Linked DNA regions of Homo sapiens: region 1 is linked to region 2. Evidence: fine-mapped expression QTL. Tissue or cell type: breast. Region 2 holds a variant in brackets; the other region holds the start of a gene. All regions are shown on one strand. Distances are from middle to middle.

Region 1 (5,221 bases), 29 kb after region 2:
AAAGGGAAGGAGGCAAGTGCTCTGGAGGTGGCATGATCTTGAGTGGAAATGTGACGAGAGGAGCCTGGAGCCCACACAAAGGCAAAGAGCACACAGAGAAGCAAAGGCCTTTAGGTCTGGGGCCCAGGAAGTCCTCTGCCGGCCATTTTCCTTCCCTCGGCTCTACAAGGGGCCACTCAGGAATGGGGGCTAGGGAGTAGGTGGGGGGACAGAAGCCACAGGTAGAAGGAAGTGTGAGGTGTGTGTGTGTGTGTGTGTGTGTGTGTGTGTGTGTGTGTGTGTGGTGGAAGGGCCAGGGTCGGTTTCTTTTGTCTCCTTCCACCTTATTACCCCCTGCCCCTCACTCTCTCCTAAGGCCTGTCTTAATACATAAGTCTTGGTTGACCTGTACTGTTTGGTAATGGGTAAAGTCTTATTAGCATTTTACTAAACTTAGCTAAATAAAATAAGTAAATAAATAAACAAGTGGAATCTTTGCTCACTTGTGTGTAATTCTTACCAGGCATCCTTTGTATCAAAGTGTTTACTTGGTCTATAAGCTCTCCCCTGTCAGGTACTGCCCCTTCCTCCTTGAGTTTCCTGGGTGCTGCCCCTTTCTCCCAGGTTCCCCCAGTCATGGGATCTGGCCTCTCAGAGGCTGGAGGAGGGGGTGCCAGGCCCGGGATCCAGCTTGGAAAAGTGCCCGTGAGGGTTCAGCTGGAGGTCTCCCTGGGGCCCGGGGGGATTTCCAACCTGCCATTCCGTACTCTCCCCATGAGACACTTGTTTCTACCTAAGCTGGGTGGGGTAAGAAGAATCCAGTGGGAAAGAGGATTTCTGCATTGGCTATTCGGGAAAGAAAGCATCCCTGACCCCCTTCCCTGTCGTCAAGGGACCCACTGGCCCTGGGGCGGCCTTCCAACTAGGCTAGCCTCTTTCAGGAGGCTCTCGATAAAGTGCCCTGGAGTTCCAGGCCCTCGTCCCTGCTCCCTGTGCCACTTTCCCGTCCCGCAGCGCCTCTCCTGAGCTGCACTCCTGTCTCAGCGACTCCCTCACCCCGCTCGCGGATACTCATGCGCGGCCCCACAGGGACTGGGGTTCCCCTTGGCCTGGACGCTGGGCATCGGCCTCCAGCTGAAGGCCAGGAGATCAAGCCCAGGAAGGGTGAAGGGTGGCCCACAACCGTTTGCGAGCGCGGGGACCATGGGCCCCAGGACAGCCGGGGCCAGACAGGATGCAGGGCAGATCCCTAGAGCAGCATCCGAAAGAGAAAGCCGTCCAGACCCAGGGCTCAGGGACAGGAGAACCGCTCGCGGGGGATCCTCAACCTCCTGGCACGCTGGGACATGCTCCTGGCTGTGTCCCGGTGAATCACCCATCCTTGCCCACTAGCGCGCCATCGAGCTCGCGGGGCCGTCGAGCCAGCCTCGGGTCGCGTTTACACCAGCTCAGAACCGGCTGGGAGCTCGGCTGCTCGCACTAGGTGCGTAGACCCTGCCTGGGGCCGGCAGCCCCTCGCCTCCCCTCATCCCCGGGGATGCGTGCGTCTCTTGGTCCCCGCCACTGGGCCAGGGTGCTCTGGAAAGGGGCGCACGGACCACGCGGGGGCCGAGCCTTTACCTCGATTGGAGTGGCTCAGGGTGGACGACTGGGAAGACTTGGACTTCTGCCGCTTGACGGTCATCATCACCTGCTCCTGCACGCGCTGCCTGCCAGACGTGCCTGTTTTCATCTTTTGGTCCGACGGCAAAGCCAACGTGGAGTTGTCCTGGTCCTGGAAGCATTCGTACGCCAAGGCGGTCTTGAGCGGCGAGTGGTTCATGGTGGCGGGAGGCGGGTGGCGCGCGGCCGGGGCCTAGGAGAGCAGAGAGGCGAGGCGAGGTGCGGTGCAGCGGGCGGGCAGGAGCGTGCTCTTCTCGCTCTCAGCGGCTCCCTACGGCCATAGAGTGCGTGGTCCGCGTGAGGGCTCCCTGCAGCTGCTCCTGGCGCTTCCACCCTGGTTCGTCCCTCTCTGGCACTGGCGAGGCCCGCCCTCCGTCAGACAGGATATACCACCCCTGCCCTGCACCACCCACTCCACCGGGCCGCGCGCTGCTGCTGCTCAGACGCGGAGCTGCAGGGCACTGCTGCTGCGGAGCCAGCGCTCTTGGGGGCAGGGCTGCGAGTCCCCTGTGTGGGACGCTGGGCGCCTTCCTGCTCGCTCTTTTTTTTCTCTCCCTTCCCTCTCCCCATGAGCAAGAAACGTCGCAAGCCTTGAGGCCCCAGGGAGACGCCCCTCTGTCCTGTTCTGCCGGCTCACTGAGAAAGCATGTGCTCAGCTCAGGAACCGAGGGAGACCTCTCTCTAGGAAAGAAAGGAGTCTTTCTTGACCAGGCTGCCCAGGAGAGCCAGGCGTCCATCTCCCTCTGTACTGAGGTCATAGCAGAGACCAACCCCGGCGGTGGAGGCTCCCGGGCTGATGGCAGAACCATAGCTCTTGCTCCAAAGGAGTGCTCCATCTTATGGGGGTAACCCAGTCTACTCTAAAGGAGCTTCCTCTGAAGAAAGTGGGGTAGGGGCAGTAAGGCCACATCAAGGAGCAGACTTGGGATATCAGACCACACAGTGGGTATGCCTTGGTAAAACCGGTGGTTATTTGTTGTTCATGAGTATACCCCGGTAAAACACCACGTGAACAGCGGATCCTCTCTGAAACTCCACTATAACCTCTAAAACAATGCCTGGCACACATAATATTAGGCGCTTAATAAAAAATATTTTAAATAGGTGAATACGTGAATGCTAGTTAATTTAAGGTAAATTAAATCTAACTCGGATCCTAACCAGATCCTCACTGAAAAATTGAAAAGCTGCTTTACCCTGAAATTTCACTCTGGACTTATTATTCTGGGACCACTGTGTGCATTCCCCTATATACACTCACCCCTGGGGACACATGTGCAGTGAAGCTTTATTCATGTAGCATCCTCTCCAGGCGTGGAGGGAGCCCACATCAGTGAATTTGGTGTGTAACAGGAGCTGAGTGTTTTTTTTTTTTTTTAAGTATTTACTTTGATGGAAATCTTTCTAAAAGGTATCGCATTCTGTTTGCCTCCTAAAGCAAACAACACTGAACATATTTGCTGTACTTCTTGATGCCCTGGGTTTCTCATTCTGGACATCCATTACTGAACTGTGTAGTCGTGCTGTCCGGTCAGTTTCTTAGTTTTGGGGCCTCCACCAGTGTGTGACACTATCACAGCCGTCACTCTTGCTGTCATTTGAGGCTGCCGCTCACAGCTCACATATTTTACTTTTAGTTTGCTCTTCTAATCTACAGAGGAAAGGACAATCAGAAATCTATTCTTTTTGGGAATTTTATGTCGAGGAAGGATCAAGAAGACTGAATGACTGTCTCAGGGACCATGTACATGAAGGTCACTCACGCAACTCCTGAGATGTGGGTGTTACATGCGGGGAGCCCCAGCTTTCCCAAGGAAGGTATTCCTAGTAGCAATTTGCAGAGCAGATTATTGTAAAGCAGATTATAGTTTCCAATAGAAACAGTTTTATTATTGAGGGCGCTGTTCCTAAGAACTTAACCTCAAGTAAACCAGAGATGTGATAAAAAATATGTCATAGATGTGTACAAAATACCTGTAAACCTCTATTATCACTTCATATTGTAAGATTCTGCCTCTAGCCATAGACCGCCAGGACTGGACAGAGCCTTGGACTTCATCCAGCCAAGCACTGCATTTCACTGATTAGGAGAGGAGGTAGCTTGCTTGCAATGCCCCAGTTAATATGTGGCAAAGCCTGCATCCTAACCAGGCCTTGTGACTCCTGGCACAGTGCTCATTCCACCACATCATCCAGCTTCCCTTATAAAAGTCCTATAAAATGGACATTAAAGTACAGTGCACACCGATTATATAAGGGCCCCAATGTACTGTAAAGTATACACAGCAGCATATAAAAATACAATTCTATTGTATCACACATTTGGCCTATCTAAAACCTAATATGCTAGCCATAATAAATGTTAATTACATCTTTAAATAACGATAATTTTCCTATTCTAGGATATAGAAGGGCCCTGAAGGAGGGGATTAGAGTAGCTCATCTTCCTATAAAAGGCAAGTCCGTGGAAGCAGAACTGATTATCTTTAAAATTGTTTCCAGGTATGAAGTTCAGTTTTTCTAGCTACTTCTCTACTATGTTAATATTGACATTATTTTGACATATTGATAGCAATAGCATTTACTATGCTCCTCCAAACACCATGCCTACCAACCAGGCATTGTTCTGAGCCCTGTACACGAACCACATCATTTAAATCCTTACAATGACCCTATGAGGTGGGCACCATCACCCTTCTTTTTCAGATGAGGTAACTGAAGTTCCATGAGGCCACCCAGCTGGCAACAGGCAGACAAGGCAACTGCAATCCAGAGCTGGACACTCAGTGGCAGTGCCAGGCTGCCGCCTCGAGATTTCTCTGTGACAAGCAGATCCTTCTCTGGATAGGTATTTTAACAGCATCCATTCCCATCACAGGGCACGAAAGTCAGGCCAGCTGGGTTCCTGATCTAGTTGTGTCACTAACTAGCTTCATGTTAGACAAGTGCCTTCCTCCGTCCCTTGCACCAATCTACAAAGAGAGCGGGTAAACTTCGTGGCTCCTAAACTCCACTCTAGCCCCAACATTCTATAATTCTGTCGATTGTGGGGATTTGTAGGGCAGGACATCTTGAATCAGGCCCTTCTGACAGAGGAGGAGAGGAAAGAGAAGTCAGGTTACACATTCTGGGCCACGGTGAGGGAGATATACTCAGGCTGGGAGGATTGGTTTGGGGCTCAGGTATATGGTTTTGAGCCAGCAGGCCAATGCTATTTCCATAATCTCTCTCTCTCTTCTGCCTGCCTGAGCCCCACCCTATGTGGGGCCTGTCTCAGAAATCAACCAGCAAGGAGGCTAACACTCCTAAAGTGAAGAAAAGATGTCAAGGAGGCACAGTCACATGATCCTGGCTCTGAAATGGCATGCTTTCAGGTGACTGTCAGAACATATATTTAGATGTTAAAATTCTAATGGATATGGGTTAATTTTGGCTTGGAAGGTGTTGGGGGTGATCAGGGGGAAGCATCCTGAAAGAAGTTAATTTTGACTTGATTCTGAAATAAGATGAGTATATTTTCATCCTCAAAGGAATGAGTATGAACGGGCTTCTAATTCTCTTTGCTGCCTCCTTAGAGCAT
Region 2 (5,221 bases):
TCTCAAACTCCTGAGCTCAAGCACCCTCTACCCGCTCCTGCCTCGGCCTCCCAAAGTGCTGGGATTACAGGCGTGAGCCACCACACCCAGGCCATGTCCCTCAGTTTTTATGTCTATTTGTCCTATTTGTCCTTTGGATTTACCTGTCTTATAACGTAACCTGAAACCCATTCTATTCCCGTCGTCCATACCGGGGCATATTCCTTTGCTCTTTCAGAACATGGATAGAGATTTACATGCCTAAGATCAGAGGTTCTCAAACTCTAGTGTAAATCAGAATCACTGAAGGGCTTGTTAATATATGCATTGCTGGGCCCCTCTCCCAGTGTTTCTGAGACAATAGGTCTGGGTGGGTCCCCAAATGAGCATTTCTAACAAATTCCTGGGTGATGCTGATGTTGCTGGTTGGAGGAACACACTTTGAGAACTATTAGCCTCTTTCTGTTCATAAACTGTGACCTTTAAAACCTACACAGTCAATGTCTGTTTCACCTTCACACTAAGAACTTCTTGAGTTCAAGGGCCCATGGGGCCAGGTTCTCCCCATTAGGGAGTCCATTACACCAGGGGCAATGAACTCCCCAGGGACAGAAGCTATGTCTCTCCTGTCATCCCAGGAGCCCTTTGCAGGGTGCAGTCAGGCTAAGGGTGTGTCTCCCCACTGGCCCTCCTGGCTCCCCAACCCAGCCCAGCAGCACTCACTTGGAGCTGGCCCTAGAGTGGCCAAAGGACAGGTCCTTGTTGCAGGAGATGGGCGGGATATACACAGGGTCCTGCTTGGAGGCACAAGAGGGCGGGCGCACAGGGCACTTCTTTATGGCCTTCTGACCACTGCAGGTGCTGTAAAAGCTGTAGCGGTTCTGGGTGGTCTTCTGGCCCTTGCTGCCCAGCGTGCCCTTGCGCAGGGTGCCCCGTGGGTCACAGTAGAGGTCGGGCTCACTGCGGCTCGCCTTGATTTTCTGCATGAAGCAGATGTCGCTGCCTGCGCCGGTGGTGTTACAGCTGCCCCGGGGGTAGTGCCGGCTCCAGTTCTCCATCTGGCTGTAGGAGCTGAAGCGCCTGTTGTCAGGCTCCCGCTTGAGGGTTCCATTGTAGATCTGGCCAGGGAAAGGGAGAAAAGCTCAGTCAAGGTTCCTAAATGGGGGTCCTGGATCCAGCAGGGCATGAGATACAGCCCTCCCCAGCCCCCATAATAACGCTTACAGAATCCCAGAATGTTTGGCGTGGAAGGAACCTGAGCCATCATCTGATATATTACTTTTCTAACTGCAGGCTGTGACCCATTGTGGATTATAAAATCAATTTAGAAGACTATGGCCATCATTTTTAAAAAGATGGAATAGAATAATATATCCTGGAATATAAAATATCAGAGTGCAGTGCAGGTAGTAAAGTCACACATTGTTTTGTGAAACAGTGTATGGGTACTGGGTTGCAACATACGTGACATACCTAAAGGAGCTACCAGGTGTCATAAGAGGGAGGATGAACCCAGGAAGCCAAGACAGCCCAGGAAAGGTGTATGCACCAGTATCAGAGCCCCATGCTAGTCTCACCCCACAGACACAGAACGGGTCTAAATATGTCTCAGAAAAGTGGAGGAGGATGGTCTGCCCAGATGGGGCACTTCGAGTGAAGCCAGGCTTTATGACGAATGGTGCAGTGTTTCTTTACGTGGGTGCTGTCGGCACCTGAGGCAGAACAATCCTTCGCATTTATTACTGTGAATTGCTGTCAAAAAAGTTTGACAACCTCTGATCTGGTCCCACATGGTACAGTCCAGGAGGGGGAGTTGGAGGCCCAGAGAAGAGTGACCTTCTAGTAGTCACTCGGTGAGGAAAGGACAAAACCTGGACTTGAGTCTGGGTCTCCAAGCCCTATGCCATTCCCAGACACCAGCAGCTTCTCACACAGCCAGCCTTCTTGGGCCCCTTATACTCAGCACACAGAAACTTCTATTCTGGCCAGGACTGTTTTCTACTGTTCTTTTCTGCTAAACTCTTCATCTTGCCTCCCCTCTTCCAGGGCAAGAAGCAAAGGGTAACAGGTCACCTCAAAGGCCAAAGAGGGACAATATTCCTGCTCCCTGGGCCCTTTTACAAGGGACTGTGAGCTAGGGGCCTGCGTGCACACATGGAGGCAGGCCTGGGGCTGCAAGGTGGGGTACAGGGAGGGCCTCCTGGGCTTTGTTGTCAGGCTGGCAATGGGGAGAAGCTGGGCAGAGGCTCAATCCGGCACAAAAACATACAACAGACAATGAGGTGCCTCATGAGCTCTGTGTGAGCCCAAGTGGGGAGTCGGCCTCCTTGGGAGGGGCCTGTGAGGTTGGAGACTTGGTGCGAATCAGTTCTGGAACAGAACTGTCCGAGGAGGACTTTCCCAGGAGCTCACAAGCTGGTGGGTCTGGCCTGCTCCAACTTGTTCTCATAGTAGA[G/A]GATCAACATCGAGTATGATAAAAAAACATCTCCACACAGGTGCTGACTTGGGACTCACCTTTGCTGGGATGGGCCAGGGCCAAACCCAGCAACCTAGGGCCTGCCCGCCCACCCCTGCCCCTCCCTGAGAGAGAGAGAGTATGTGTGTGTAGGGGAGGTCGTTAGGCAACTGGGTAATTCCCTTCTGCACCAGATCTAGCCACACAAGCTGGGGAGGGGCTGGCACTCGACTTGGTCCTTTTTCATCTCTGCAGGGAGTCACAGACAGCAGGAAACTCCCATGGTTTGAGCTCCCAGAAAGACTGGGTGTCAAACCACCAGTCAGAAGTTGCATCCAAAACTCAGAAGCCACAGACTGTTAACCTTGGCAATAGCCTGCTCATCCCCTTCACCCACACGCCCAGCTGTGCACTCAGGCAGGCATAATTTTCTTCCCCAAACTGGGTCAACCAACCTACTCCAAAGAGAATTGGTGTCTGGTTGTTGGGAGAGGCATAGATGGACAATCACAAGGCATGGGGAGAGCAGCTGGGCAATTTTCTGAGCATCTGGGTATGGAATGCGTGTCCTGCAGATTACAGGCAAAATATGCCATGAAAGCCTTTACAAATGGCCACACCCTCCATTCTCCTCTCAGGGGAAGGAAGGTGGCAGATGACAACATGGAGGGGGAAGCCCAGCATTGCCAAAGGGCAAAGAGCCAGCTAAGCCTTAAATGGAAATGCAACAAGGAGCACCCTTGTTCTCCATAAACGACACGCCTGGACGTCATCTCAGACACCTAATGAGAAGCCCAAACACTCATCCTGGCCCAAAACCAGCAAACATGTGATCATGCTGATTGAGCCTCTCAGAGGCTTTGGGCTTTGCTTTCCTGTGCTGGGAAAAGGAGCAGCTGGCAGCCTTGCCAAGTCTCAGCAAGGGTGGGCTGCCCACAGGGAATGGGCATTGGCTGCACCTGCAGGGGAGCGGGCAAGGTGGGGAAGGCAGAGACATCCCCGTGGGACTGCATTTCCCAGCCTACCACCATCAGCCACACCCTAGTGGCGTCACCCATTCCTGGGAACCCCACCCCAGCTCCTAGTGTCATGGTGCTGGTGGGCTGTGCTGCCTGAGGACAGCTGGGTATGACTCTCTCCCATCATCATGGCCCTTTGCTGTCACTTTGACAAGCAGGAGTAAAGCCTCCTCTCAGACCCCGTCCTCCCCAAGTACCATGAGGGGGCCTGGATTCCCTCCAAGGCACAAGGAGGTGAACTGCCACCAGCTCTCCCTGCACAAATTGGCCTGGGACCTGGATGAAGCCTGCAGCCTTGAAGGCTGAAACGGCAGCAACTGCCTGGGAATCCAGGTGCTTCCTCCAGCTCACTGGGCTGAGATCTACAAACTGGAGGAAGACCCAAGGTCAAGAACACAGACTCTGGAGCCAGCCTGCCTGGCCTTGTCGTTGCCCAATGGGTGGCCTTGGGCAATTACTTAAGCCCAACGTGCCTCAGTTTTTCCATCTGTAAAACTAGTATAATTGTAGCCAACATAGAGGATTGTTGGGAGAATCCAGTGAACTAATGTTAGTAAAGCACTCAGGACAGTCCACGATATGAGTGTTTGCTCGGTAGGGACATCATATCCCTCTGACTCTTAGATTGGGCACAGGCTGGCTGCCTTAGGACTTGGCTCCTAAAGGAGAGATTTTATGTCACCTGTGACATACCTAAATGGGATACCAGGTGTCATAAGAGAGAGGATGAACCCAGGAAGCCAAGACAGCCCAGGAAAGTGTATGCACCAGTATCAGAGCCCCGTGCTAGTCTCACCCCACAGACATAGAATGGGTCTAAATATGTCTCAGAAAAGTGGAGGAGCATGGTCTGCCCAGATGGGGCACTTCGAGTGAAGCCAGGCTTTATGATGAATGGTGCAGTGTTTCTTTACTTGGGTGCTGTCGGCACCTGAGGCAGGACAATTCTTTGTATAGGCTGTCCCAAGCATGGCAGGATGTTTAGTGCCCCAGCCTCCAGGTTCTAAATGCTAGTAATGCCTCACAGTCATTGCAAAATGTCCCCACACGTTTCCAAACACTGTCTTCCAGGTCCCGAGAGAGCAGCTGCAGCCAGAAGAGGATGCACGGGCAGTGCACGTGCGCCCGCTGCAGGTGGGAGAGCTTCACCGCCAATGCCGGCTCTCCCAGCCACACCCCCACACTCAGATAGCAATCTGCTGGCAGCGTCTGGCTGTTTGAATACAAAGGACAGTGACACACACACAACCTCTTGTCTGGTTATCCCATGGATCAGAACATTCCAGAGGCTGGAAACTCAATTTCCTGAGAGCAGAGTTGGTCACTCTGCCAGACAGCAGGCTAGACTGGACAGCCAGACAGAAATCCAGAGCATTCTGAGAGACATGTTTCTTCACTTGGGAGACCAGTGGGGCTTTTGAGGGGTCCCACAGCCCGAGGTGAGCCAGGAAAAGCTGCTTTTAGCTAGGAGCCCCCCAGCCAGTCCCCGCTTTGCCGCCTGCTTGTGTAATTCCCCTTCTCCCCTTCCTTCTTGGAGAAGTGGGGTGTTTTAACCCCACACTGAAAGCTCCCCTCTATTCCTGTCCCTCATTAAGTCAGGAAGCTCTCAGAGGCCAACCCCTCCTTTATAGGCAAGGAGACAGTCTCAGTGAAGCAATACAAGCCCCAGATCCAGGGCCTCAAAGAACTGAATATGACCAGTTGCCCCTTGAGAGAGCCATTCAGTGTGGAGTGGCCCCCAAAGCTGGAAAAGCTCCAGCTTGCCCAA

Alleles and levels. Positions count from the first base shown, and alleles are read on the strand shown. Sizes are in standard deviations (SD) of each study's normalised expression.
With allele G in place of A in region 2, the expression in breast of the gene that starts at base 1,998 in region 1 is higher (small effect, 0.24 SD a copy in GTEx).

The links. PIP is the estimated chance that this variant, and not a neighbour inherited with it, causes the effect. A credible set is the group of variants that fine-mapping cannot tell apart.
Region 1: it holds the start of PKP1, and the variant in region 2 is the best candidate, but not a certain one, in a credible set for the expression of PKP1 in breast (GTEx, PIP 0.55).

Annotation. Positions count from the first base shown.
Region 1 is chr1:201,280,283-201,285,503 of GRCh38, reverse strand. PKP1 (plakophilin 1) reads right to left here and starts at 1,998. Exons shown (of 14, transcript NM_001005337.3): 1 at 1,600-1,998. The coding sequence starts at 1,801. RefSeq lists an enhancer at 1,628-2,157.
Region 2 is chr1:201,309,042-201,314,262 of GRCh38, reverse strand. It overlaps PKP1 (plakophilin 1), which reads right to left. Exons shown (of 14, transcript NM_001005337.3): 3 at 703-1,097. Among named protein-coding and RNA genes, the nearest start is that of PKP1, 28 kb to the right of the region's middle. The variant G/A (reference allele first, on the strand shown) is at 2,435.